Linked DNA regions of Homo sapiens. The protein of the gene in region 5 purifies or fractionates together with the protein of the main gene of each other region. This does not show direct contact. Each region holds a gene or a part of one and is shown on either strand. Other genes may lie near its edges.

Region 1 (4,886 bases), on a different chromosome or scaffold from region 5:
AGGCTGGGCGCAGTGGCTCACGCCTGTAATCCCAACACTTTGGGAGGCTGAGGTGGGCGGGTCGCCTGAGGTTGGGAGTTCAAGACCAGCCTGACCAACATGGAGAAACCCTGTCTCTACCAAAAATACAAAATTAGCCGGGCGTGGTGGTGCATGCCTGTAATCCCAGCTACTCAGGAGGCTGAGGCAGTAGAATCACTTGAACCCGGAAGGCGGAAGTTGCGGTGGGCCGAGATCGTGCCATTGCACTCCAGCCTGGGCAACAAGACTTAACTTCGTCTCAAAAGAATATATATATGTGTATATATATATATATATATATATATATATATATATATATATGTGTGTGTATATATATATATATATGTGTATATATATATATGTGTATATATATATGTGTATATATATATATGTGTGTATATATATATATGTGTATATATATATGTGTATATATATATGTATATATATATGTGTATATATATGTATATATATATGTATATATATATATATATAGAGAGAGAGAGAGAGAGAGAGAGAGAATGTCTTGTATTTTGGTGGTGATTGTTCATTCATTTAATGCCTACAAGGTGGCAAACATTTTGCTTATAGAAGGATTATTATCCTCCTAATGTACCACAGCAAAATATCCCCCAAATATTCATATTTAATCTGATAGATTTGAAGTGATTTAATTTCCAGCAACTTCATATATAATAGATTCATTTTGACTTAGGAAATAATATAATCAAATGATCACTCACTTTTTTGGATTTGAGTGCAAACTCAAAGTTCAAATATATTACTCCTTTAAAATGCATAGCATATACCTCCAGAAAATGAAACCCACATTAACATATCTTTCTAAGAGGTGACTAATACATATTTCAAATACCTAAAATGATATGCATAAATTTTTTGCAGAAGTTTGATTAAAACTCGTTTTCCTGAATTAGAATTTAACCTAAGAATTCCTAAGAAGTCATTGAAAATATTTTGATTTAAGCAAAATCTGACCTGTTTAGTTATATCAAAATCAATTTTAAATATGTATGTGAAAATGATGTCTGGATGTTTGGAATTTGGGAAAGTAATTCATTCTTTCAACAAACATTTACTATGCATCCACTATGTGTTAGGCACCACGCTTAACACCAAAAAGTGACATTCTCTCCAAAACAAGTCCAGGAAGAACATCAAATTGCACATTGATGGAAACACTATCAGTTGTCCAGATCAACTGATGAACACTGCTAATGACAGGTGTAGATTACTAAAGTGATCCTTTCTCTGACTTCAATACATATGTAAGCACAGCAAACGACAATAGAGCATACCACAATTTGCTGTACTGACACTACTGCTTTGGGCCAACTAGATAATATGTGTGTAGATATATAGTGTACACTATATACCAACAAAATCAGTTATATAGTAACTTAGGAAACACACTCTGAAGTATTTATTGGTCTTGTTCTAAAAGTCACAATAAAATAAAATCCTGACATGATGCTAAACAATTTTTTTAAACAATAAAAAAGTATACAAGGAATAAACCCAATTTTTAAAATGTAATATATACACCTGCAAATAAAAGAATAATAATTCACCCAAATCTGAGTGGTAAAATTGCAGATGATTTTTATTTTATTTTAAATTTCCATATTTCCAACCTTTCTACAATGACCATGCATTACATTTATAATCAGTAAAAATTACTTGTATGTTAGGTACAGTTAAAAAAAAAAAAAACTGTTCTTAACAACCGTTCCAAACCCTGTGCCTAGTATGGGCCAGGGCAAGGCTTCACATAGGGAAACAGGTATGATCTTAGAGGGCTGATGCAGAAGGCCCAGGGGTCGACCCAACTGGCTAATGACTGGAAACCCTTTAAGAAGAGACAAAACTTCCATATCTAAAGTTACATTTAAATGAATATGCCTGGGGAGAAGGGAAAATAGGAACATGTGTTTCCAGCTCTAGGGCCTAGTTAGGTCACTGGACAAATGGAGTATTGCCTTCTGGTGATGTTTAACTCCATAAAACATCTATGCTTAAACATTTAGTAATGAACATTTAAAGAACTATTTCTAAACATGAGATCACTTTGAAAAGTAACACTTTTTTCTAATTATAAAAATAGCATAATGTTCTTCGTAGAAAACCCAGGAAGTATGAAAAGCTGGGAAATAAAATTAAAATCATCTATAATCCCATCACCCAGAGGCAACCACCATGAGCACTTCGGTATATAACCTTCTAGTAATTTATTCTAGGCATATGTGTGCATCCTGCTTTTTCACTTAATATTTTATCGTGGGTATTTTCTTATGTCATTAATACGCCTAGTAAACCTCATTCTAACCACTGCCTAATATTACTAATGGCTTGAAAATCCTGTTTTTGGATAAACAATATTATTGTATTTACTATGGACCTAACTTATAAGAACAGATGCAAAATGTATCTGATATTTGAAAACTACCCAAGGGATTTTTGGAATTAATGATCTCTCCTGGATCTAACTAACATCAGTATTTTGATTCCAAAATTGATTTTCTTCTGTTCAGATACCTAAAATCACCCATGTTGTGCACCATAAATCACTCACATATTTTGCAAAATACAGTCTTAGGATTGGAAAACCACAACTCCTTAAGAAATATTAGACAGTAAAGTACTCAGTAAATTTCTGTTCTTCCCATATGTAAGCCAGGGCAGGCCCTCCAACCCAGGCTCTGCCTGCTAGAGCAAGTCAATCACTGAGCTTAAAGGAAACACTAAAGTAAGTAAAACAGAGACAAAATTATCCCTAGCACAAAGTTTGGTTTCTGAGTAAATTCATTTTTTTCACTTTTCAAAGTAAGTAAAGTAATAAACTATATTTTTTTCTGAGAAAATTTTCATTCAGAAGCTCCATAAAACAATAATATTATGGGCTTACACCCCTAATATATCAGCATGGCATATGTTTGCTAAGCAAGAGTTCTGAAAATTAACTCATCATACTAATCACAATTCATTTGAAGTACAGGAGATGAAAATTCTATGTAAAAATGTGGAATTTTTATTTAAAAGGAAACTCTGTTTCCAATTATATTTGGTGGTTTGGAGATCCTTTCCTTACCTGCAAGGCAGCTTAGGATCAGAAAGACCTTCCAAAATGCGAACACCATTGTGTGGAGGTTAGTTGAGAGCAGCAGGTGCCAGTAGCTTGCCTGGACTAGGCTGAGTCTCAAATTGGCTTCTTCGATCACACCGAGGTTTGCCTGGCTTATCTGCTGGGCATCGCCAAGCAAACATGCCTCTTTGGGCTTACTTATTGCGTATAGACTTTTTTCAGTACAGATTTGTGTTTCTTTGAAACACTTTTCATGGGGCGTGTTTCCTTGATATATTTGCTACTGTGTTAATAATAAACCCACGCATTTAAATTATTCAAGCTCCTTGTACACAGATTCTCTAAGTCTCATTGTTTAAAATCAATCTTACTAAAACGTTGTACTTGGGCTGGGGGATATGGTTGGAAGAGAGCCTATGCAAATAAAAGCTGACAAGGCTAATTAATTTCAAATATTTCCATGAGTCTTACAGAATTGATTCACTAACCTCCTTTTACAAATTAAGTTAGTAAATTGGTACTATATCGTTTCCTGGGGAGATGGGGCTCACGGGAAGGGCACAGGGGTTATGAAGCTAAAAAGCATTCATTTCTGTGTGAACAAACTCTGGATATGTTACTCTTTTTTGAAACACTGGCAGTTGTCACTACCCTCCACCAAAACTAGCAGTAAAATGATTTACATGCTTTTGTCTGTCGGGTTAGAAACCTTATAGCACGTATTTGCTAACGTAATTTTGCAAAATCAAGTTAGTGAATACATGCTTAAAGACTTTCTTTGGAGAAGTCTGATTTTTTGGAGAATTAAGATACTCAGTAAATGCTATAGGGTTTCCTTAGAAATGGAGGTTCACCAGGAGGGCATGGGAGGCTCCACAGGTAAGGAACTTTCATGGGAACATGAACTTCTAATAGTGTTCCTATTATGCTTAAGTTACCCGGAGAAACCTAAGGACTTTCTCTGGCTCTTCCCATGTGATTTCTAAGTCCTATCATTTCCATCTCCACAGCGACTTTCAGATGTGTTCTTTCTCCAATCTGCTGCTTCCATCTTGGTCCAGGTACTCAGCTTCCCACTTTGGCCTATCATAGCAGCTTCCTAAGTGGTCTCCCTGACTTATTCCACCTTCATCCTGTGTGCCAGCCGCAGGCCAATGTTCCAGCCCTAGTGAAATATTTCCAGTAACACCATAAATGGACTCTTTCATCAAATCCAAAGTCCTTAATATGGATTCCCATTCTTCCAATATCTGATCCTCACCTCATCTGAACTTTAGCCACATTAACTCATGCCCCTGAAAAAGTATGTCAAGATTTATTGCCTCAAAGTGTTCAGTCACATGAAATGTGTACAAATTTCAAGTGATATGTTTTATGTTCCTGTCTTTAATTTACAGGAAATGTTTGACCCCATCTTACTTTAGCCATTCCAATCTCCCACTGCTTCTTAGAAAGCCATTTTGCTTCCATCATGCCTGATTCCTCCTTGCAGCCTATCCTGTCCATGCTCATGTCTGATGCCAAACGTTGGCTCCAGGTGATTTCCATCACTAGAGTTTTCTTCTTCCTCCTCTTACTAGCCAAGTATATTCTTAGCATAGATCAGTCATACTGTCCTATGTGAGAATTTCAATGAACCGACATACCACCCTAGCATAAATTTCCATTTTACTTAAAGCCAATATCCTACAGCTGACCATTGATTATTCTCCAGTAGTTTCGCATTTATTAACTGGTCTACCTTAAATCTAGTCACTGTGAATCCCTC
Region 2 (3,595 bases), on a different chromosome or scaffold from region 5:
CATTTTGTTGATCCATTCATCTGTCAATGGACAACTGAAGTGTTTCCACCTTTTGGCTATTATGAATAATGCTGCTATGAACATAGGTGTGCAAACACCTGTTTGAGTCCCTACTTTTGGTCCTTTTGGGTGTATACCCAGAAGTGGAATCCCTGGATCCTATGGTAATTTTATGTTTAACTTTTTGAGGAAGTCATACTGTCTTCCACAGCAGCTGGGCCATTTTACTTTCCCACCAACAGTGCTCAAGGGTTCCAATTTCTCCACATCCTTGCCAACACTTGTTGGTTTTTATTTTTTGAAAATATTTCAGTTTAAGGATGAAGCTGTGGTAATGCTAGGATAGCCTATTACATTAGCAGCTCATCTATATAAGAAGAAAATTGTTGGGTTAATGAAGCACTAAATGAAATACTAAAGCCAGAAGCTTCAGCCTGAAATCATTCTTTTTGGGCTCTTCAGTAGCATCACTTCTTTCTACTCCACCAAACACTGAGAGGCGGGCTCATCTCAGGATCAGAGATGGAAAGGCCTCTTCTAGAGTTATTGGCCACTCCCTCTCTCCTAATGAGCAGAGCGGGCAGAGAGGCCGGGCACACTCTGACTTGTAGGTAACCAGTTTCCTCACATCCCTGCCCACACCACAGTTTTGGCTTTTCAACAATAAAGCTGTCTCTCTATCCTAGGACTCTCTTACGGGGAACAGTAAAACTGCAACATGATCACGTACCCAAAGAGTGCATTCCCAGCAAGATATATTAGCAGCTGTTGCCTCTTTACATGATCTCCTCTCTCCCTCATTCCCCTAGCTATGGAAAACTTTCCATCTGAGTCCTTAGGAAAAGATGGAGGGTGTGTGAAATGAGAGACCGAGACATGCTGCCATCTCAGAAGGGCTTTATTTCTACTTCATCACGGTCTCATACAGACCCAGAGGCATCATCATGTGTTTCCATTTGGTATCCTTGTGACTTTTTGTAGTGTTTTCCCTTAAGAAAACTTTGAGTAAACTCTGTACATTGCCAGTTAATCTTTTCACAATAATTTAAAAATGGTGTTGCTGTTGGATCATCGATGCAAGAAGACCAACAATAAAAGTACAGTACAAGGAAATTCACAACATATTACAGTGGAACAGACTGAGTCACATTTAGGTGATGGCGAGGACACAGTAGCGGTATATACATGCACCCGAAGACGTGCAAGCCAAGTAGGATAATATAAGGATCATACAGTGAATTTTCTAAGCCCACTGAGGACTTTGTACCTTTTCAAAATCATCCTGTATCCCCTCCAGCATACAGAATATCTGTCTTGTCTACTGGCTTCATGGCTTTTTCACTACAAAAAGTTCACTGAATCAGACAGTCTGAAGCATTAAAAAATTCGTAAAAAACAGTAACACTGACAAAATAAAATTAACTTAATCCACTCTAATTCAACATGGAAATAAACTGAACCAAAATGTAACAGTGCAAATTTAACAGAGGCAGTCAGGTATTGACAGCGAGGGTGTTCAGAATCTCTTAAAATGTACATTTTTTAAAACTTTTATTTTTTAAATCTATTTATACCTTATTTACCTTTTCGTTTAATATACTGTGTGTAAAAAAGATGGAGACAAAAATAGTTTTCTGAGCTATGAAAAAAATTAAGTTATTACAGGCACATTTACTGTTTCATTCTAGAAACATCTCAGTTTCACAGGTTGAACATTCAGCAGCTTTGTGTTTTTAAAAAACATTCTTTGACCTTGAGAAAACTAGATCTCTCCTGTTGGGCAGAGTTTTGTTCATGGTGATGGTGTGGTTATGCAAATTACAGTGAATTATACTGTGATAATCCATGCAAGCTTGCATCTCGGTGTGGCTGCTCCTCGGGCGGCTCCTCGCCACCATGCTCCTCCAAGGACGTCGGGTCTCCGGGTGACTGAGGCTGTGAGGCAGTGGGGGAATGTGGGGCCCAACGGGACGGAGGGCGACGGTTTGCTGGTCTCTCGGGCCTGGAGAAGCAGGGCTCTAGGGATGGAGCTAGTGCAGAACAAGGTAGTTCCTTCAGAGCCGAGAAAGGGAGACAGGGTTACTCAGACCGGCAGTGTCACCAGTGGATGATTCCCCCAAACACACTTCTCAACAGACTCAAGTGAGATGAAGTATACACCACAGGCAACTCGTGAATATTAACTACTTTCTATGCTCATGCAGAATAACTTAAAATAATAAAGAATTCAACACAAATGATCAGTGACATGAATGGGAAGAGACCAATTATGATTAAACACAGCAATACTGTGAGATGAGTCAGCTTGCAAAGCTCCTTTAGAATTGGGCTGGGGTATACAGAAGGCATGACACAGTGACTGTGGCAGCGGTCTCCACAGGCCACTTCATCATATTCCTATCTGGTAGATCTGTTCATTTGGCCCTTTTGTATGATCTATTTAGCTACAGTGGACAAGTGAACTGGTCCTACAGGGCCTGGATCTACTGGGAGCCCACAAAGAGACCTCTGATTTCATTCAGCTGTGTTAGCAATGGCAGTCGTCTTAAACGAACTCTGCTACTGTTTATTTGAAATTGACTGGGAGTAGCTTAAACAAACTCCCACAACATGGCAAAAATGCTGCAGGCAGAAATTTTAATTTGGGTCTGGTTTTCTTTAATGACTGTTCAATTGCAGCAGCATTTTAAAAAGGTAGAATCAGAATGTACTGGTGGTTTTGTGTTTCAGGCATCCTAATGTTCTGCGAGCAGGTGATGCAAGACACACTCAACCATGTGCAAATCACCTAGAATCCTTATTCTCAAGCTACTTTGTTTTTAAAGAATGTTGAGCTCCTTGTCCTTACATGTTACAAAACCAGGACACCCAAATTTGGAATTTGCTGATACACAGAAATGTAAAAAGCTGTGGCATGAGAAAACTGAGTTGCCCAGCATGGAGCCCGCTGGCTGGAATGACACTCAGACACTGGAAGCTTGAGGTGAACTGAATGGAAGGCACAGGAAGGATGACAGAGAACAAGGACCCTCAAAGAAAGGAAGTGAGTTGGAGGATTTAAAAAGATGTGACAAGCAACTGAAAAGACCAGGATGAGGACAGCCCAGCCAGTGGTGCAGGGGAGCAGCAGCGGGGGAAGGACAGACGGCTGCACGGAATGGGCAGTGTCACTCGGGAGAAGATGGAACACGGCAGAGACAGCATGGCCCGAGGACAGCGTGGGAGCCACAGGCTTCCAGAAGAGCAATGGGGCGAGCGGTTTCCCTGCCTCCCTCTGGGGTCAGCAGAAAAGGAACAGTGGCCCTGGAGACTATGCTTCATGCTCCCTGCTGCTTTTGTGGCTGGAACTTCATACGGCCACAGGGAGAAGCTTCTGTTCCCAAAGCATTATGCTAACAGTACCGTGACAACCAGAAATACCTCTCCAGTTAAAACTCCACCAGCGCCACCAGCCACCAAGATGCAGACTAACCCAAGGTGCTCCTGTGTCCTCATCTCACTGCAGCCCACAGTGCTTGACTGGGACACACGGTTTGGGAAATCTGTGTGTTTTGTGTCTGCGCTCCCCTTGTTATAGAAGTAGTGTGTGTGTTGT
Region 3 (4,233 bases), about 56 Mb from region 5:
TGTTGCCCAGACTGGTCTCGAACTCCTGACCTCAAGAGATCCTCCTGTCTCCCAAATCCTTCTGGGATTAAAGGCGTGAGCCACTGCATCCAGCCAATCTACTTCTTTTTTTTTTTTTTTTTTTGAGATGGAGTCTCCCTCTGTTGCCCAGGCTGGAGTGCAGTGGCGTGATCTCAGCTCACTGCAAGCTCCGCCTCCCAGGTTCATGCCATTCTCCTACCTCACTCTCCTGAGTAGCTGGGACTACAGGCACCCGCCACCACCCCCGACTAATTTTTTTTTTGTATTTTTTAGTAGAGACGGGGTTTCACCGTGTTAGCCAGGATGGTCTCAATCTCCTGACCTCGTGATCCGCCCACCTCGGCCTCCCAAAGTGCTGGGATTACAGGCGTGAGCCACCGCGCCCGGCCAATCTACTTCCTTTTTTAAGGAAGAAGATTTTTGTGGTCTTTTAGTATAGCAGTTAAATCATACCCTAACTAATATAAGGCCTTACAGTGAAAAAGTAAGTTACTCACCCAACCTTGGTCTTCCATATTATTTTTACACACATGGTAGTATACACTTTACATTGTTTTAAACCTTGCTTTTTTCACTTAATATGTTTCAGTTGTGGATCTACACCAGCCCTCATAGAGCCATCTCATCTTTTTAACAGTTGCATAATATTCCATTGTGTGAATGTATTATAAATTACTAAGGAGCTCCTTGTGGGTGGACTTACTCTTAATTCGCCGCAGGTAAGCCTCATCCTCTGTCTCAATCAGGGGGAAGTCCTCCCTGGATGGGCATCTGGAGGGGTAACAGGTCGCATGCCATTGAGAGACAGAAGCTAGGTTATAGACCAGAATCAGCCTTCCCTCCTTCCCAAACATGCCTTATGCTTCCATCTTCTGATAAGACTCCTCAGCCTCACACCCTAGCTTTAATTTAGTCCTGACCTTCTCCCTTTTCTTTCTTTTTTTTTTGAGACGGAGTCTTACTCTGTCACCCAGGCTGGAGTGCAAGGGCGCTATCTCAGCTCACTACAACCTCCTCCTGGGTTCAAGTGATTCACTTGTCTCAGCCTCCTGAGTAGCTAGGATTACAGGCACGCACCACCATGCCTGGCTAATTTTTGTATTTTTAGTAGACATGGGGTTTCGTCACGTTGGCCAGGCTGGTCTCAAACTCCTGACCTCAGGTGATCCTCCGCCTCCCAAAGTGCTGGGATTACAGGCATGAGCCACCGCGCCCGGCCGACCTTCTCCCATTTCTTAGCACTGATTATCTGCGTTTACTGAGATATATCTCTCCAAAGGTCGCTTGGAAAGGCAGCACAGTGCAGAGGGTCAAGTACAGGCTTTGGCATCAAGCAAACAGGATGCAAATCCTGGCTCCACTGTTTACCAGGTGGTAACCTCTCTATTTCCTCATTTGAAAAATGAAGGTAATATCTTCCTCATAGGTTTTTCATTAGGATTAAATGAAATGTTAAAGTGCTTTGAACATAACAGAAGCTCAACAAATCAATTACAATTAATATTATTAATTTCCACAATTATAATTTTTTTTTTGAGAGAGAGTCTTGCACTTTCGCCCAGGCTGGAGTCCAGTGACAGGATCTTGGCTCACTGCAACCTCTGCCTCCCAGGTTCAGGTGATTCTCCTGCCTCAGTCTCCCAAGCAGCTGGGACTACAGGCACGCACCACCATGCCTGGCTAAGTTTTATATTTTTAGTAGAGACAGGGTTTCGCCATGTTGGCCAGGCTGGTCTCGAACTCCAGTGGTCCGCCTGTCTCAGCCTCCCAAAGTGCTGGGATTCCAGGTGTGAGCCACAGCGCCTGGCCACAATTATAAATATTAATACTATTAATAAAGAAGCCACTACAGATCTGTCAACAGGACAGGTTATTTTGAACTGCTTTCTTGGAATAGGCAATTTCATAATTTTTTTTTGGAGATGGAGTCTCACTCTGTCACCTAGGCTGGAGTGCAGTGGCACAATCCTGACTCACTGCAACCTCCACCCCCGGGTTCAAGCGATTCTCCTGCCTCAGCTTCCCGCGTAACTGGGATTACAAGCTTATGCCACCACGCCCGGCTAATTTTTGTATTTTTAGTAGAGACGAGGTTTCACCATATTGGCCGGGCTGGTCTTGAACTCCTGACCTCAAGTGATCTACCCGCCTCAGCCTCTCAAAGTGCCGGGATTACAGGCGTGAGCCACTGTGCCTGGCCTGCAATTTCATACTTTTATATGCATTTCTAAAAACCTTTTCAAAATTCCATGGTGCAGAAGTTAAAAAAAAAAAAAGGTTTACAAATTATAAAGTTGAGAACTGATTCCCTGAAAGCTAAAGAAAAATTATAAAAATCTTGGCTGGGCATGGTGGCTAATGCCTGTAATCTCAGCTCTTTTGGAGGCTGAGGTGGGCGGATAAATCTGAGATCAGGAGTTCGAGACCAGCTTGGTCAACATGGCAAAACCCCGTCTCCACTAAAAATACAAAAATTTGGCTGGGTGCAGTGGCTCATGCCTGTAATCCCAGGACTTTGGGAGGCTGAGGCGGGTCGATTACGAGGTCAAGATATCAAGACCATCCTGGCCAACATGGTAAAACCCCGTCTCTACTAAAAATACAAAAATTAGCTGGGCATGGTGGCGTGAGCCTGTAGTCCCAGCTACTCAGGAGGCTGAGGCAGCCCGGCAACAGAGACTCTGTCTCCAAAAAAAAAAAAAAAAAAAAAAAATTTGCCTGGGGTCGTGGTGGGCACCTGTAGTCCCAGCTATTTGGGAGGCTGAGGCAGGAGAATCGCTTGAATCCAGGAGGTGGAGGTTGCAGTGAGCTGAGAGCGAGACTCTGTCTCAAAAAAAATTAAAAAAAAAAAAGAAAGAAAACCTGTAAAAATCTGAATTAGAATTACACTTACACTTCATTCTTTAGGCATAATCTTCCAGAATCCATTTTAAACATCTTACCTGTGCTTTATTTGATGTTTTTTCCCATCACAATTAGACACATAGTTGACTGCCTCAAATCTAATGTGTGTCCAATAGAAGCTAAAGATTTGCTGCTTTGACACACTGATTTCCTTCTTGCTTCTATTGTGTTGAGTCTGTTTATGAGACTTGTTCCTCTCTAGTATCGATGCTTTCATTATCCTCTTTTTCATTCATTTTTAGAAAAATAAATGTAAAATACAATACAATCCAAATAACAGCCCTCTGCCTACAGATGAACATGTGAATGCAGCTGAAATTGTACTGTTGGCTGGCAGGTATGCCACCATGTGACAGCTCAAAGTATTCCCTTGCTTGTCAGCTCATGCTGAATTTGAAAGGGAGTTGAGGTTGGCAATGTATAAAATGTGGCTTTACAGGACATAAGAACATAGGTGACCTTTCCAGTCTTGGGCCATTTTGTCTCTCCCTCAACCTCTTCCCCCACCTCTGAATGCTGGATTCTGTTCCCAGGGAGTTCTATGGTTGGGATCTAATGCTGCAGGTACCCTGAGGTCATAAGCACATGCAGGCGGCAGGCAGACACTCACGTGCGCACGCTCTGCTGAATGACCCGGATCCAGGTGCTCCGGTCATCCCGGGATGCTGTGTGCACCTCGTACATCTCAGGTGGGGCTGCGCTGATCAGAAACATCCCTTTCTCCTGGTTGGCAATGTCTCGTACGATTAGATTCTGCAGCGATACCACTGAAGGCTTGTCCTGCCAGTCAGGGGAAAGGAAGGATTAAGCCTGGGAATCCTGTCCCTTGGCATATTTAGGCCTTCAATCCTTCTGGACGAGGACTGAAAGGACTGAAGAGTCATCTTACAATACCAGTTAAGAGCCAGGCACTGGTGCCAGCCAGAAGGGACTTAGAAATGTGTGCAACCCTTGACAAATTATTTAACTGACTTGAAGCTTTACTTTCATCATCTATAAAATGAGGACGAAAATAATCTTTTCCCACAGGTGTAAAAGTGCCTGTGCACAGTAACAGTACCTGTGAGCTGCTCTTATTTTTTATTATTACGGTAATAGTAACAATTATAGCTGTTTGACTCTGGGGGACTCCAGAGCTCTCGTGGGCTTGGGCAGGAAAGCAAGAAGAGACTAAAACACTTGTCTGTGCTGAGAAAGGTGAAGAATGAATGTCTCACCAGGGTAGGAAAGATGTACTTCTGGTCCTTTTCCTGGAGAAACACCAGTACATCTGTCATCAGCAGCACTAGCACATCTGGAAGGGGATGA
Region 4 (4,233 bases), on a different chromosome or scaffold from region 5:
AGAAAAGACCTATATCAAAGTACATCACCACGAACAGAGGATAAAAGAAAATCCTAAAGGCTATTAAGAGAAAAAGATGGCAAAGGATCCAGGAAGCCAAATGGCATCAGACATTCAACAGCAACTCTTGCAGCCAAAAGATAATGAATGGAAGAAAGTCTTCAAAACTAACAAATTCTAAATCTTAAAAATTCTTTAAAAACTTACTTTTGAACTAGAATTATATATATTAAGTTGTGACCTTATAATAAAGACATATTTAGACAGGCAAGTTCTTAAAAAATATGTTTTCCATGGATCCTTTCTCAGAAGGCTACTAAAGGTTGTACACAACAAAAACAAGGAGGAAATTCTAACAGGAAAAACAAAGTATTTAAAACATCCTTGAAGTAGTTTGTGTTCCCACTTCTAGGGAAAAAAACTGTAACTCATTATTAAGATAGTAAAAAAGACCTAAACAGAGATAAAACATGCACAGGTGGGAAGACTCAATATCAAAGAGAGGTTAATTTTTCCAAAACTGATTTATAAATTCAATGAAATCTCTCCAAAAAAACACAGATTTTTTGTGGCACTCAACCAGGCTAACTGGAAAATGTACATAGAAGCCCTAAGGGCCAACAATACTACTAAACTATGTTGAAGAAGCAGCAGAAATTTATTTTAATTCTTTCCTAATTAAGACAGTGGGATACTGGTATAGGAATAGACAAATAGATCAATGAAGAGAACGGAGAATGCAGAAACAGACACATGCTACATAACAGGGCACTGCAGAGCAGTGGGGAATTATTTTTCTTCCCAGCAAATAGTTCTGGGACAATTGTGTATCCATATGGGGAAAAAAATGAAACTGGACCCCTACCTCATACCATTTACAAACATCTATTCTAGGTAGATTATAGATCTAATTGTTAAAGAAAAGCAAAATCATAAAGCTTTTAGAAGATAATATAGAAGATTATCTTCATGATCACACATTAGGAAGAAATGTCTTAAACATAACACAAAAAGCATCAACTGTAAAGGAAAAAACTAACAAATTGGACCATGTTAAAGAATTCATAAAAAGACACTACAGTGAGAATGAAAAGACAGGTCTCAGAATGAGACTATATTAGCAATAACTATCACCAGCAAATGGTTAAAATTCAAAACACATATATTGTACACACACACAATCAACATACAAACAAAGACTTCAAGAGAAAAATGGATAAGAGACTTGAACACAAAAGAAGAAATTCAAATTACCAAAAACATATTAAAAGAATTACTTTTAGTAATCTGTGAAAGGTGAATTAAATGCACAATGAGAAATGTAACACATTATCAGCCTGTCAAAACTTTAAAATTCTGACAATATTAAATGTTAGCAAAGATGCAGAGCAAGGAAATTTTTTTTTTTTTTTGAGACGGAGTCTTGCTCTTTCGCCCAGGCTGGAGTGCAGTGGTGCGATCCCGGCTCACTGCAAGCTCCTCCTCCCGGGTTCACGCCATTCTCCTGCCTCAGCCTCCCGAGTAGCTGGGACTACAGGCTCCTGCCACCACGCCCGGCTAATTTTTTGTATTTTTAGTAGAGACGGGGTTTCACCGTGTTAGCCAGGATGGTCTCGATCTCCTGACTTCGTGATCCGCCCGCCTCGGCCTCCCAAAGTGCTGGGAATACAGGCATGAGCCACCGCGCCTGGCAGGGCAAGGAAATTCTTCAACTGCTGGTGGGAATGTAAACTTGTATAATTAGTTTGGCATCATCTGGTAAAATTAAAGATACACTACCCTATAACCTAGCAATTCCATTCCTGGATTAACTCTTAGTGAAACTCATGTATATGTGCAACTACCGTTTTGTGTAAGAGCCAAAAACTGGAAGCAACCAATATATCCATTAATTGTACAATAGTAAATAATTGGTGATATCATCATATAATAGAATACAATGCTACAACGAAAAAGAACTACAGCTCTATGTGATAAAGATGAACCTCACAAACACAATACTGACTTTGAAAGAGGCAAGACACAAAAGAATATGTTCAATATGATTCCATTCATATAAAGTTCAAGTGCATACAAAACTAAATTTATAACATTTAGGGATATAATCCTAGATAGTAAATGATTAAGAAAAGCAAATAAATGAATAACTTAAAGATAGGATAGTGGTTTCCTTTAGGGAGAGAGAAGATATTAGATACAGAAAGGAGGCAAGAGGGATTCTCGGATGTTAGCAGAATTCCTTGACACTGACAGTTGTTAATAATAATTCACTTTATTATCTGCTAAATGTATATGTTTCCATACTTTTTAATACAAAGATTATATATTTTACTATTTTTTAAAAGGCACACAGCCATCAGTTGTCATATAAAAACTACTTTCATCCAGCACACAGCCAAGAGTTTAGTTTCAACTGGTTTAATAGATAAAATAGCTTTCTAGAAATGCAATTCAATTCATAATCTTATGTCATTCTTTTTTTTCTGTTAAAAACAAGAGAAATCCAGCAGGGGGTGAGGGGCAGTGGCTCATGCCTCTAATCCCAACACTTTGGGAGGCCAAGGCAGGCGGATCACCTGAGGTCAGGAAAGACCACCCTGGCAAACATGGTGAAACCCCGTCTCTACTAAAAATACAAAAAATTAGCCCGGCACGGTGGTGCGTGCCTGTAATCCCAACTACTCCGGAGGCTGAGGCAGGAGAATTGCTTGAACCTGGGAGGCGGAGGTTGCAGTGAGCCGAGATTGCGCCACAGCACTGCAGCCTGGGCGACAGAGAGGGACTCCATCTCAAAACAAAACAAAACACAAACAAAACAACAACAACAAAAAAAGAGAAACCCAAAGATAAAATATTGTGAAGGATATTACATATCTTCATTTATATGTCAAATAATACTATTTTTAAAAGAGAAAATAAATTTAAAGTAGTGAAGCTTTTTCAGGCAAGGAAGTAACTGTTAAATGTGTACAGTGCTGGACTGAGTGGAAGGAATACAACAAGTACACGATGGAAGAATGACTCAGACTAAATACACAACATGATTACCTATAGGTTACACATCCCAAATCTGAAAATCTAATCTGAAATGCTCCAAAATCTGAAACTTTCTGAGTGCTAACATGACATGATGTTCAAAGGAAATGATCACTAGAGCATTTTCAATTTCAGATGTTCAATAACTAAGTATAATGCAAATATTCCAAAATCCAAAAAATTCCAAAATCCAAAACACTTCTGGTCCCAAGCATTTGGGAAATGGGATACTCAACCTCATCTCTATTTACAATATAATCTTTGTAACAGTTACTAATTTCTGTAAGCAAATGATAGTTAGAATCAAGTTTATAAACAGTTTTCTACTACATACTACTACGTACTATGTTAAGGTTCCATAGCTTTTTCTTCCAAATATAAGGAAGTTTATAAATCCTCAATTTCTATGGAATCTTGAAAAACAAAAACTTTTAGAAAAAAGAGGCCATAAGAAGACAGATAAGTTTTAATTTCAAATTTTATTTTTTAAAAAACTCATACCCTACTCCTTAGAAGCAGAGAGTAGTGAAATGAAAAAAGAAAAAATAGTGCCAGCCCGTGCTCTTCAAATATCATACTAAAATACAGTCATCAAGATCACAGAAATTCTCCTTGACACAATTTTATAGTGCTCAAATAACTACATGAAATAAGACTCTTGTTCTTCAGAAATTTTTCAATTAATGTCTCAGTACAGGAAGATAGATCACATTTTGCAGAAAGTGTCATGAAAGAATAACACAGGGCTTTAGTATCTCCACACAGTCTGCCCATGCCATTAGAAACCAACAAAATGGTTTATTATCTTCTTGGTTCCTTTCCCTATCTCATCCCAAAGTTTGCATCTATGAGCTCTAAATGTAATAACAGTAATTTCTACCATTTACTGAGCCCTTTCCATGTGCCTTATATTATCTTTTTCAATCCTCACACTGAGGATGTCTTATGGATGAGCAAAGTTAGGCACAGGACAAATAAGAAACTTGCTCAAGGTCATATGCTGCTATTGAGTGAGAGAGCTAAGTTATATTCCAACTCCAGAGCCAGTGCTCTTACTACTAAGCTGTTTATATTCGATAAAACTTATTTACACCATGAAAACTGCCCATAATCACCTACCACCTTCTAACTACAAGATTCTAGGTGCCTTGAGCATTTATTTTTGCCTTTCCAGGCTAATTACATACTCACAGAACT
Region 5 (4,233 bases):
ATCATAGAAGACTACAAATACAGTTATATGTCATTTAATGATGGGGATACGTTCTAAGAAATGTGTCATTAGGCAACTTCATCATTTAAATGTCACAGGGTGTACTTAAACCTAGATGGTATGGCCTACTACACACCTAGGCTGTATGGTGTAGCCTTTTGCTCCTAGGCTACAAACCTGTACAGGATGTTCTTGTACTGAATACCGTAGGCACTGTAGGCAGTTGTAACAATAGTATTTGTGTATCTAAACACGAAAGGTACAGTAAAAATATAGCATTATAATCTTATGGGATCACCATTTTTCTTTCTCTTGGAATCACATTTCTCTCTCTCTCTCTCTCTCTCAACATTTCTCTCTCTTTTTGATGAGGCCTCACTCTGTTGCCTAGGCTGGAGTGTAGTGACATGATCAGAGGTCATTGTAACCTTGAACTCCTAGGCTTATTGTAACCTTGAACTCCTAGGCTTAAATGATCCTCCTGCCTCAGCCTCCCAAGTAGCTGGGACTACGGGTGTATGCCACCACATCTGGCTAATTTTAATTTTTTACTTTTTGTAGAAACGAGGTCTTGCTCTGTTGCCCAGGCTGGTCTTAAAGTCCTGGCTTCAACCAATCCTCCTACCTTGGCCTCCCAAAGTGCTGGGATTACAGACATGAGCAACCATGCCCAGTTCCATTTTTATTTTTTAAGAGACAGTCCAGACTTGCATTGTCGGCCAGGCTGGGGTGCACTGGTGTGATCACAGTTCACTGCAACCCCCTAGGCTCAAGAGATCCCCCTACCCCAGCCTCCCAAGTAGCTGGGATTACAGTCCTGAGCCACCACGCCTGTCTGGGACTGACATTTTATATGTAGCCTGTTATTTTTATTTATTTATTTATTTTTGAGACAGAGTCTCGCTCTGTCACCCAGGCTGGAGTGCAGTGGCACGATCTCGGCTCACTGCAACCTCTGCCTCCCGGGTTCATGCTATTCTCCTGCCTCAGCCTCCTGAGTAGCTGGGACTACAGGCGCCCGCCACCAGGCTCAGCTAATTTTTTGTATTTTTAGTAGAGACGGGGTTTCACTGTGTTAGCCAGGATGGTCTCGATCTCCTGACCTCGTGATCTACCCGCCTCGGCCTCTCAAAGTGCTAGGATTACAGGCTTGAGCCACAGCGCCCGGCCCGTAGCCTGTTATTAAACGAAATGTCATTATGCAGCACATGACTGTAAATAAGTGAGGTGGTTCAATATTGTGCAGAGATATTTTTCCTGTACTTAATTTATAAGTAAATTTAATATAATTTCAATCAAATGCCAATTGAATTATTTTTTGGAACTAGAAACATTTATTCTAAAATCCATAAATATAAGCAAATAAGAATTGTTTTTTTGGTGGGGGGAGTTAATGGAACAGAACCTGTATTATGGATATCAGCAACTAAAACAAGATTATATTGGCAAAGAAATGGAGAGAAAAGATATATATGAGTATCTAGATATACTCATGTATATATGGATTTTAATATATGACAAAGGTGGCCTTTCAGTTCCATGGGAAACAGTGGTGGTACTGGGACAGGTAGCTCACTATTTAGAAAGGAAAAATGTAGCAGGCTCCTTTGGTTGGCAGACTTCTATGATGATCTCATGAGCTTGTTAACTGTCCTCACACCCTTGTGTAATCCCCTCTCCTTAAGTGTGAGCTGTCCTAGTGACTTGCTTCTAACGAACAGACTGTGGCAAAAGTGAAAGAATGTCACTTCATGAGTAAGATACAAAAGATTGTGACTTCTGTCTTACTAGTAGACTCGCTGTCTTGGCTTTGATGAAGTAAGGTGCCATGCTGGAGAAGCCTGGGTGACAAGGATCTGAGGGTGGGCTCTGGCCAACAGCCAGCCAGGAACTGAGGCTCTCAGTCCAACATAACTTGACAAACTGAATTCTGCCAACATACATGTGAACTTAGAAGCAGATCCTTCCCCATCTGACACTTTATATGAGACTCAACTTCTGGCCAACACTCCAACTGCAGCTTTGTAAGAGACCCTGAGCAGAGGGCCCACCTAAGCCATGACCAGATTCTGGATTCACAGCAACTAAGGCAACAAATGCTTGTCATTTTTCCTCCCAATGGAATGGTATTTTCCCAAAATCTTGCAGATCAGTTACAGCAAACAGAACTATGACCATCAAGGAAAACTGTCACTCTTGGCTTCTTTTTGACCACAGCAGCTACATGGAAGCAGCTGCAGCTTTGATAAAGGCCATAAATGCTTGCTATTTTAAGCCAATAAATTTTGTGATCATTTGATATGCGTAATTGAAAATGAATGCAGGCCAGGCATGGTGGCTCAGGCCTTTAATCCCAGCACTTTGGGAGGCCAAGGCAGGCTTGGGCCCAAGAGATCAATACCAGCCTGGGCATCATGGTGAAACCCCATCTCATCTTTACCAAAAATACAAAAAAATTAGCTGGGCATGGTGGTGCATGCCTGTAGTCCCAGCTACTTGGGAGGCTAAGGCAGGAGGATCACCTGAGCCTGGGAGGTCAGGGCTGCCGTCAGCCACAATCGTACTACTGCACTCCATCCTGGGTGATGTGGTGAGATCCTGTCTGAAAAAAAAAAAAACCCAAAACACAAACAAACAAACCCAAATGTAGTTCCTTACCCTCATCATACACAAATTTCAATGTCGGGCAGTATTGAATAACGAACACTGGGTTGACTAGTGGCCCCCAAAAAGATGTCAATGTGGGCCAGGTGCAGTGGCTTACAACTGTAATCCTAGCACTTTGGAAGGCCAAGGAAGGCACACTGCCTGATCTTAGGAGTTTGAGACCAGCCTGGGCAACATGATGAAACTCCATCTCTACTAAAAATACAAAAAAAAACCTAGCCGGGCGTGGTATCGGGCGCCTGTTATCTCAGCTACTCAGGAGGCTAAGGAACAAGAATTGCGTGAACCCAGGAGGTGGAGGTTGCAGTGAGCCGAGATGGTGCCACTGACTGCACTCCAGCCTGGGCAACAGAGTGAGTCTCTGTCTCAAAAAAATAAATAAAATATAAAATAAAATAAAAATAAAATAATAAAATAAAATATAAAATAAAATAAAAAAGAAAAATAAAAAAATTATTTTGGGGCTCAAGTTAGATTTTCTTGGAATAAGAACGGTGTTTTGTTTTGTTTTGCTTGTTTTATAAAAATGCAGCTTTGAGTGGAAGGAAAGGTTTACACTGCCAAAAAAATAAAAGTTTTGAAAGTCATGCCGACTCTTCATTTTTTTCCTCTTTACATGGAAACTTAGCTGTAATGAATATTTAGTTAATTCTTCCACTCTGCACTTTTTTCTTTTTAGACGGAGTCTCACTCTGTTGCCCAGGCTGGAGTGCAGTGCTGTGATCTCGGCTCACTGCAACCTCTGCCCTCCTGGGTTCAAGCCATTCTCCTGCCTCAAGCAATTCTGCCTCAGTCTCCCAAGTAGCTGGGATTACAGGTGCCCGCCATCACGCCCGGCTAATTTTTGTATTTTTAGTAGGGATGGGGTTTCATCATGTTGGCCAGGCTGGTCTTGAACTCCTGATCTCAGGTGATCTGCCTGCCTCAGCCTCCCAAAGTGCTGGGATTACAGGCTTGAGTAATAAACTAACAAAAGCTCTGAGCTACTTATAATTTGTAGAAAGCTTTGATAGGAATGCCTGCTTTCCAGAAAATTAGTATTAAGGCTTAAACCCAAGTAATATGGCCGTAATTTTGGTGCTGGAATGGCCTATGTTAGAAATTGCAAGATCTCTATATCGAGAGATCTTTATGAGTTGGAAAATATTTTCCTTTCTTAACCTGGGTATTTATCTTACTCTCTCTCCTCATCCTGCTCCTATTTTCATTAACCCAACTCAGCCAAACCAGATAAAAGCTGAATAACTGGCCATCATCCCTCTCCCTAATCGTCAAGGTTTTTTGTTTTTTTGTTTTTTTTTTTGTGTCATCTCGGCTCACTGTAACCTCCGCCTCCAGGGTTCAAGTGATTCTTGTGCCTCGGCCTCCCTAGTAGCTGAGATTACAGGCACACGCCACCATGCCCAGCTAATTTTTTTTTTTTTTTTTTAAGTAGAAATGGGGTTTCACCATGTTGATCAGGCTGATCTTGAACTCCTGACCTGAGGTGATCCGCCTGCCTCGGCCTCCCAAAGTGCTGGGATTACAGGCATGAACCACCATGCCCAGCCTCTATCTTCCATTCTT
Region 6 (4,233 bases), on a different chromosome or scaffold from region 5:
CAATTAGCTTTGTCACTGACTGCTACACAAGCTTTGATGAATCAATATTGTCTAATAAATGAGAATAGGAAATTAATGAAAGCTTTTGGCAGCTTAGTTCCCAAACATTCTTCTAATTCCCCACTCACCTTACTCTATTTTAAAGTAAAATACTGTGGTAATCTAAAAATAGAATGTTAAGAGTAAAATCAATGTTATTCAGGCATGGGAAATCTGCTATTACAGTGACTTTGACAATATGCTCACTGCTGTCATGGGGATAGTAAAGTCAGTGTGACCACAATAAAGGAAAATCATCTTTGTATCTTAAGAAAAAATGTATTTTCACAAGAAAACAATTTATGTTTCGGTTATGCTTCATTAGTTTTTGTTTGAAATTCACTTTTAACAACGCTAAATCGAAGCTAGATTGGGCCTAGGGACAATGCCTGTCATCAGATGGCATGTTTCAACTAAAGTCCAATAAGATTAATGATCCTTGCCTAAGTACTATTGGTTTCCTACAGAGGAGTGACAATGTGCTCAGTGTTACAAGAAATAACTGAATCATAGGGAAATAAGACACACACCTCCCTTCAAGAAATTCTAATCTAACTATAGAGAAGACTAGAATCTTAGGCTTAAAAATCAATAGCCATCTCCCCAATCACCCCAGACCCTAACCTTGGACAAATAAAAATAAAGCAGGGAAAACACTTTAGGATTTCTCTTACTTTCTGGTAAAGCATGTATTCTTGGTCCCAGACTTCGAAAGTACACATGTTTCATGGCCTCTTCAGCTGAAACCCTTTTCTTAGATTCATACTGTGAAAAAGCAAAGAACTGCTTCATTAGCTTTTTCTCTAATTACTGCAAAAAGTAGGAGATGGGCAAATTAGCATTTAGAGCTACTTAAAAAAAATCTTGATTATTTAATATGATGACTATTTTTCAATCAACAATTTGGAATACTCCAGTTATACTCTAATTTGAGTCGCTGCTGAGATTGTGTAATAACATCTCAGTTCCACATTTCTAAGATAAGGCTGGATCTTAAACAAGAATTTACATTGCTTGTATTTTCTGAAGCAAAGAAAAATTAAAATATTTGACCTGTGTAGTTACTTCTCTTCATGAACACCAAAGGACTGGTGGACATATACCCAGTATTTTTATGGCAGTCATTCTTAACGACCTATCCAATACTCATTTCCCTTTTTTTTTTGATGATACAACCTAGGTTTGTTCAAGGTGTCCATCAACTCTGATAGATGAATCATGAATCATAACTGTTTTAAATTTTGGCTAATTATGACAATTCTGCTCCCCAATTCCCAGTCTTTCCTACAATTAATGTTCTGGCCAATAAGACTTGGAAAGAAACCTTGTAGGGGTTTCTGTAAAGCTTTTGCTTCCAAGTTTCAAGAGGACTAATGTGGCTGGTACTACCCTTATCGTCCCCCCTTATTCCTGCTTTGGAGGGAAATATGAATGGCATTTGGAGGCAGAGCATCCTCCAAAGGCTGTACGTATAAGGAAAAGAGAACATAAGAGAGCATAGAGAGCATCAATTGCAGAGAATGTGGCCTTGACACAGCTGATCAATGCCAGTAACCAACTACCTCAGACTGTTGTAGGTGACAAGAGACCCAGACACATTAGGAGAAACCATGTTTTTTTTTTTTTTTTTAACTTAAACATGTGCCTTAAGCATAGATAATTTTATTTGTCATTAACAATACCGAGGAAGTACTACTGAGCCCATTCTACACATGAAGAAGCTGAGGCTTAACAACCTATTTAACAATTACTGTAAGAACTGACTTACCTGAAGAAATTTTGTTATCAACTCAATTCCTTCAGAGTCTAACCTAGAAACAACAAAGAACAAGTAAAAATTTATGCTCTCTTAGCTGATAAAACTTTTCAGATAAAACTATTTTCTAAGTGTTTTAATCTGCTAAATTTAAATGCCCTAAAATAGTCACTCTTGTTGTCTTCAAATAGACACAAATCTGTTTTAGTCTTAAAAGACTGGCCTTGCTATTTGTTTAAGGATAAGCCATAAATAACTTGGCTTCAATTTGAATTTTCAATATCCAAGAACAAATTAAAGAATTTTAAAAATCACCATGCTGTCTCAAAACAAAGAAACTTCAATATTAAGAAAGCTTACATATTGTATCACTTTTCGCAGTCTTTCACTAAACGCAAGTATATAAGAGCATCATTTTCCTATTATATAGGTGAAAACAGAGACAAGTGACCCCAAAATGTATCACTGTTGTTCAAGACAAACACAGAAATGAGCTATTCAGCAAATTTTTAGAGTTGTCTGCTTAGCACCGGGTACTAGAAGGTATTGAGTTCAATTTAAATATGCTACAATAACTTCATAAAACTTCATCAATGGTGGCCAGGTGCAGTGGCTCACGCCTGTAATCCCAGCACTTTGGGAGGCCGAGGCGGGTGGATCACGAGGTCAGGAGATCGAGACCATCCTGGCTAACATAGTGAAACCCCGTCTCTACTAAAAATTAGCCAGGCGCAGGGGCAGGCGCCTGTAGTCCCAGCTACTCGGGAGGCTGAGGCAGGAGAATGGCGTGAACCCGGGAGGTGGGGCTTGCAGTGACCTGAGATAGCACCACTGCAGTCTGGCCTGGGCGGAAGAGCGAGACTCTGTCTCCCAAAAAAAAAAAAAAAAAAAAAATTCATCAATAAGGGATATAAAACTAATGACATAATAAAGATGAAATTAGTATAACTAGGGGTAGTAGGGTTAGGGATTATCTTTTTTTTTTTTTTGAGATGGTGTTTCGCTCTTGTTGCCTAGGCTGGAGTGCAAAGGTGCGATCCCGGCTCACTGCAACCTCTCTACCTCCTGGGTTCACGTGATTCTCCTGCCTCAGCCTCCCGAGTAGCTAGGATTACAGGCATGCACCACCACGTCCGGCTAATTTTTTGTATTTTTAGTAGACAGGGTTTCTCCATGTTGGTCAGGCTGGTCTCAAACTCCCAACCTCAGGTGATCCGCCTGCCTTGGCCCCCCTAAAGTGCTGGGATTACAGGCGTGAATCACCGTGCCCGGCCTGGGATTATCTTAATGGAATAATCTCTTGATCAGAAATAACAGGTTCTATCTTACACTGCCTTTCACTGGTAGAAGTACAATTATGAATAAGGTAACGTTTTTTTCCAAGTGCTCTCAAGTGGGTCCTGTGGATGCTGCAGTCTAGACATTCTATGTAGTTTGCCATTCTAGCACATATCCAGAGTTCCCTGGGCACAAACTAGGCACTAAGTCATGGAGACTCTGCTTCAAAGAAAAGCTTCAACCTTCTACACTGAACATTACCAAAAAATAATTAAAGGACAAAAATAGAATTTATGCTACTTGGGAGAGACATGCAAAAAAAGCCCAGCAAGTATTATTATTCTTCCTAAGAAAATCTAGTTAGAATGGTATTAGTTGCTATAGTAACAATAAGAGTACCAACTCACATAAATACTTTAAAAATATTTTTGGTGTCATAACTGTTTTGCTCTTCCTTCCTTAGCTTGAAAATAAAAGGAAGCATAACAAGTGTGTTATGTTGTGAGCAATGTGAATGGCTTTGGGTTAAAATAAATGATGTCCTTATTTGGTATCTTGGTGACTTTCAAAATTTGGGGGGGTTGGGGGCAGGGAGATGGAAAATGCAGTCAAAGGGGTTATTCTATGTTATCTCCTGAAAATGTAATACATTCTACAAGTAAAAATGTTCTGACTCAAATTTTATTGGGAGCCTTGGATTGATCTTGGGGTAGGTCTAAGAAGAAACTTAAATGAATGGCTGACATTTAGATGTTACATTTTGCTAAGGAATTGGACAGAGTTTATATTCTTCAAATATGAATTACATCATTAACACTGGTCAAAATACTGATAGGTTACCTTGTGTTATAGAGTCAAGATTTTACTTACATAACCCTTTCTTAGGTTTTTGTTAAGTAAATACAGAATAATTCTGTAGAAAGCAAAACAGGAATTTCATCATAATCTCTGTGGTACGGAATAAGGCATTAATCAATGTCTTCTTTCTGGGAAAAGTAACTACATAAACTCTAGAATTCTAAAACATATACAGTTCAAAATTAAATAAGATCCTAAAATACGTAAGGGTTATGTGTATTATGTATTTTTTCCTGAATCCTTACTGTGGCTAATCCTTCAAAAGATTGAAAAGAATCATGTGTTTTCCCCCCTTTCACATA
Region 7 (4,233 bases), on a different chromosome or scaffold from region 5:
AGTGAACCCCCGCAAACCTGCAAGTCACTGCTAAGACAGGGAACCCCCGCAAGTCACTGCTAAGACAGTGAACCTCCCACACACACCCGCAAGTCACTGCTAAGACAGTGAAACCCCCTGCACACCCGCAAGTCACTAAGACAGTGAACCCCCTGCACACCCGCAAGTCACTAAGACAGTGAACCCCCGCACACTCGCAAGTCACTGATAAGACAGGGACCCCCCCCGCAAGTCACTGCTAAGACAGTGAACCCCCCACACACACCCGCAAGTCACTGATAAGACAGGGACCCCCCCCGCAAGTCACTGCTAAGACAGTGAACCCCACACACACACCCGCAAGTCACTGCTAAGTGAACCCCCTGCACACCCGCAAGTCACTAAGACAGTGAACCCCCCGCACACCCGCAAGTCACTAAGACAGTGAACCCCGCACACCCGCAAGTCACTAAGACAGTGAACCCCCACACACCCGAAAGTCACTAAGTGAACCCCCCCGCACACCCGCAAGTCACTAAGACAGTGAACCCCCCGCACACCCGCAAGTCACTAAGACAGTGAACCCCCCGCACACCCGCAAGTCACTAGTGAACCCCCCGCACACCCGCAAGTCACTAAGACAGTGAACCACCCGCACACCCACAAGTCACTAAGACAGTGAACCCCCCCGCACACCAAGTCACTAAGACAGTGAACCCCCGCACACCCACAAGTCACTGCTAAGACAGTGAACCCCCGCACACCCGCAAGTCACTAAGACAGTGAACCCCCGCACACCCGCAAGTCACTAAGACAGTGAACCCCCCCCACACATGCAAATCACTAAGACAGTGAACCCCCCGCACACCCGCAAGTCACTAAGACAGTGAACCCCCGCACACCCGCAAGTCACTGCTAAGACAGGGACCCCCCAAGTCACTGCTAAGACAGTGAACCCCCCCGCACACCCGCAAGTCACTGCTAAGACAGTGAAACCCCCTGCACACCCGCAAGTCACTGCTAAGACAGTGAACCCCCCCGCACACCCGCAAGTCACTGCTAAGACAGCGAACCCCCCTGCACACCCGCAAGTCACTGTTAAGACAGGGACCCCCTGCAAGTCACTGGTAAGGTGGTGAACCCCCTGCACACCCGCAAGTCACTGCTAAGAGAGTGACCCCTCTGCACACCAGCAAGTCACTGCTAAGACAGGGACCCCCCTGCACTGTGTTGCCACTCTGGAAAGAAAGATGGTCTCCTATCCCATCCCCAGTTGGGGTCCTCACTTGCTAGAGTACATATGTGTCATCCCCACACACATTTATATTTTGTATACAGATTTTTTTTGTTTTTTTTTGAGACAGAGTCTCACTCTATCGCCCAGGCTGGAGTGCAGTGGCACAATCTCAGCTTACTGCAACCTCCACCTCCAAGGTTCAAGCGATTCTCCTGCCTCAGCCTCCTGAGTGGTGGGATTAAAGGCATGCACCACCATGTCCGGCTAATTTTTGTATTTCTAGTAGAGATGGGGTTTCACTATGTTGGTCAGGCTGCTCTCGAACTCCTGACCTCGTGATCCGCCCTCCTCAGCCTCCCAAAGTGCTGGGATTACAGGTGTGAGCCACTGCGCCTGGCCAATAGTTACAGATTCTTAAAACAAAACCGTCTTGTATGTCTTAAACATGTTGTATGTCATTGCACCGTACGCATTCCTCCTGAATTTTCTTTGTGGATTATCTTTGTGAGATCCACCTAGGTGATCCATGTAGTTCTAATAATTGATTCTCACTGCTTTTCAGTATATGTTATGATAGAGAACAACTTACCTGTCCATTCCTCTAATGATGCACCTGTGGGCTGTCTCCAGTTGTTTGCTATTTCAGGTATCTGAGCACGTTTTCTTGTCTGAACATGCAAGAAGCTCCCAACCCGACTGAATGTCACCAAGGAGGTCACAAGAAGGGTACTGGGTAAGACCACTGGTCTCCACCCTCTCCCCCAAACCATCATCATTCTGATGGGCATGAAAGGACGTCCCTCTGGCTTTACTTGCTGATCACTAAGAAGGATGAGCATTTCTATTTATTTTTCCATTTCTGCGAAACCCCATTCATGGTTTTTGCTCTTTTCTGAGTTGTTTGCCACCTTCTTGTTGACAACTAATTCTGCACCTATTCTGGATACTTAATCTCTGTTCGTTATCCTTTTGTGGATTTTGTTTTCACTTTTAATTTCAATATAAAGAAGTTTAAAATTTAATGTAGTTGAATTTCTTAATGTTTTCCTTGGGCTTTTGGGGCCTTCTTAAAGAAGCCCTTGTTTCCAGAGCTCACAAAGATGTCTTAGGCTTAGAAACACTCAGAGCTTATTTATTTATTGTGTGGGGCTGGTGAGGGCTCTAATTTTTCTCCCCCAAACACAGATAACTAAGGCCGTCCAGGTGGCAGAGCTTCAGAGTTTGCACTGCTCTTCCCTGCAGGCTGCGTTCCTCTGCCTATCTGTCTCAGCCCCTTTCTGCAGGGCCAGGCTCCCTTTACAGCTCGCTCTACTGAGTTTCCTGTTGTGATACATTGTTTCCCATTTGAAAATGCCTTTATCACAAGCAGATTCTTGAACGAGCATCTACTTCAAGGCTTGATTCTAAGCTGGCGGTGGAGAGTAAGGAGTCACACTTGCTGGATCTGTCACACGGCTTCTGGCTCCCACTGTGGCCGTGGCAAAGCCGAGTCTCAGTCTCGGTGTCCGCTCTCAGAGGTAATTTGCGTTTTTTCCTTGGGTGCATTTAAGATATTCTCTTTGCGTTTGGTGTCCTGCAATTTCATTATGAGATGGATGGATGCTGTGCTCCCGATCCTGTGTATTCAGGCTTTCATAATTTAGAGAAAATTGCTGGCCACTGTCACTTTAAGCCTCACACCCCCAAACTTTGTTTAAACGTGTGCTGTGCCTCACCCTGGCCTCCACGGTTCCTAGTGTCTCTTGTTTTCTGTTTGGCTCTTTAGCCCGCATTTCTTCTGGTTTTCCTTTCCATCCACTAATACAAGATCTGTTTAGCCAAAATGGACCTGCTGCTAAACCCACACAGTTTCATCTGTCATACTTGTCATTTCTAGATGTTCTCTGACTCCTTTCCAGTCTCCACGTCATGTTTGGCGGTCATGTATCATACTTGTCATTTCTAGATGTTCTCTGACTCCTTTCCAGTCTCCACGTCATGTTTGGCGGTCATGTATCATACTTGTCATTTCTAGATGTTCTCTGACTCCTTTCCAGTCTCCACGTCATGTTTGGCGGTCATGTATCATACTTGTCATTTCTAGATGTTCTCTGACTCCTTTCCAGTCTCCACGTCATGTTTGGCGGTCATGTATCATACTTGTCATTTCTAGATGTTCTCTGACTCCTTTCCAGTCTCCACGTCATGTTTGGCGGTCATGTATCATACTTGTCATTTCTAGATGTTCCCTCTGATTCCTTTCCAGTCTCCAGGTCACGTTTAGCGGTCATGTGGCTCCTGGTTCAGGCTGTTTCCTTCCTCTAGTCTGTGAATATCTCAAGCATTCTTAGTTTATCTTCTTTAACTTAGGATCTCAACAGCTGCCTTCTCGGAGGTTCAGTTCTGCTGTGGTTCTGCTGACTTGCTCACGGTGGCTTTTCCTGTATGTGCTTGGTAATTTTCACCTGTGAGCTCATGTTTAGATGATTTTAATGTGACGAAATCCAGAGAGACCTGGGTGTGCTGGCAGCAGCTACCCAGCATGCGTGTTCTCACGGAGTTTGCCAATGCCATTCTCTCCACCTGGGCCACTTCTCAGGGCTGTGCTTCCAGCAAGCGGCCTTGAGGAATGAGGTCATGTCTCTTCTAGTCAAAGTGCAGGTGTGTTTACTGCCCGCTGTGAAAGCAGTGGGGTTCTCCAAGCTCAGTGTGCATCAGCCACGGCCTCAAGTGTCCACCCGTGGGGAACCCAGGCCAACGAGAGGCTCATGCTGCCAGCTGTGCCATGAGAACCCGGGAACCTCATGTCTTCAGTCAACATCCGTGAGATGCTACAGGCTGGCAGGTCAGTCTGCAAACAGAGTAGAAGCCAGATCTGGAAACACGCCGGTCCCTCCCGATGCCCGCACACAGCCCTCGTGGAGGCAGGAGCTCCACAGTGTGAGATTTTACAGATCATGATGTAGCTGGCACAAACCCAAACTGCAAACCCTTGTGAGGGGAGGTTTTGCTTCCACTTCTCAGGGCAGTGCTGGCCA

Evidence for each region.
Region 1: the proteins of PPP2R5A (region 5) and VSIG1 purify together in Homo sapiens (co-immunoprecipitation; one large-scale study listed by IntAct). This does not show direct contact.
Region 2: the proteins of PPP2R5A (region 5) and MTCL1 purify together in Homo sapiens (affinity purification with mass spectrometry; one large-scale study listed by BioGRID and IntAct). This does not show direct contact.
Region 3: the proteins of PPP2R5A (region 5) and ARHGEF2 purify together in Homo sapiens (co-immunoprecipitation; 2 studies listed by BioGRID and IntAct, with this or other methods). This does not show direct contact.
Region 4: the proteins of PPP2R5A (region 5) and SLK fractionate together in Homo sapiens (co-fractionation; one large-scale study listed by BioGRID). This does not show direct contact.
Region 6: the proteins of PPP2R5A (region 5) and CDK17 purify together in Homo sapiens (affinity purification with mass spectrometry; one large-scale study listed by BioGRID and IntAct). This does not show direct contact.
Region 7: the proteins of PPP2R5A (region 5) and PPP2R2D purify together in Homo sapiens (affinity purification with western blotting; one study listed by BioGRID). This does not show direct contact.

Annotation. Positions count from the first base shown.
Region 1 is NC_000023.11:108,043,418-108,048,303, reverse strand, and holds the start of VSIG1 (V-set and immunoglobulin domain-containing protein 1 isoform 2 precursor), read right to left. Parts: upstream 3,240-4,886; 5' UTR 3,174-3,239; coding exon 3,125-3,173; intron 1-3,124.
Region 2 is NC_000018.10:8,830,064-8,833,658, reverse strand, and holds the end of MTCL1 (microtubule cross-linking factor 1), read right to left. Parts: intron 2,053-3,595; coding exon 1,819-2,052; 3' UTR 881-1,818; downstream 1-880. UniProt on the Homo sapiens protein: Microtubule-associated factor involved in the late phase of epithelial polarization and microtubule dynamics regulation.
Region 3 is NC_000001.11:155,954,178-155,958,410, forward strand, and holds part of ARHGEF2 (rho guanine nucleotide exchange factor 2), read right to left. Parts: intron 4,220-4,233; coding exon 4,143-4,219; intron 3,706-4,142; coding exon 3,536-3,705; intron 793-3,535; coding exon 725-792; intron 1-724. UniProt on the Homo sapiens protein: Activates Rho-GTPases by promoting the exchange of GDP for GTP.
Region 4 is NC_000010.11:103,969,851-103,974,083, reverse strand, and holds part of SLK (STE20-like serine/threonine-protein kinase), read right to left. Parts: intron 1-4,233. UniProt on the Homo sapiens protein: Mediates apoptosis and actin stress fiber dissolution.
Region 5 is NC_000001.11:212,350,840-212,355,072, reverse strand, and holds part of PPP2R5A (serine/threonine-protein phosphatase 2A 56 kDa regulatory subunit alpha isoform), read right to left. Parts: intron 2,256-4,233; exon of another isoform or gene 2,123-2,255; intron 1-2,122. UniProt on the Homo sapiens protein: The B regulatory subunit might modulate substrate selectivity and catalytic activity, and might also direct the localization of the catalytic enzyme to a particular subcellular compartment.
Region 6 is NC_000012.12:96,281,796-96,286,028, forward strand, and holds part of CDK17 (cyclin-dependent kinase 17), read right to left. Parts: intron 1,851-4,233; coding exon 1,808-1,850; intron 805-1,807; coding exon 714-804; intron 1-713. UniProt on the Homo sapiens protein: May play a role in terminally differentiated neurons. Has a Ser/Thr-phosphorylating activity for histone H1.
Region 7 is NC_000010.11:131,948,923-131,953,155, reverse strand, and holds part of PPP2R2D (serine/threonine-protein phosphatase 2A 55 kDa regulatory subunit B delta isoform), read right to left. Parts: intron 4,047-4,233; coding exon of another isoform or gene 4,010-4,046; exon of another isoform or gene 2,752-4,009; intron 1-2,751. UniProt on the Homo sapiens protein: Substrate-recognition subunit of protein phosphatase 2A (PP2A) that plays a key role in cell cycle by controlling mitosis entry and exit. Involved in chromosome clustering during late mitosis by mediating dephosphorylation of MKI67.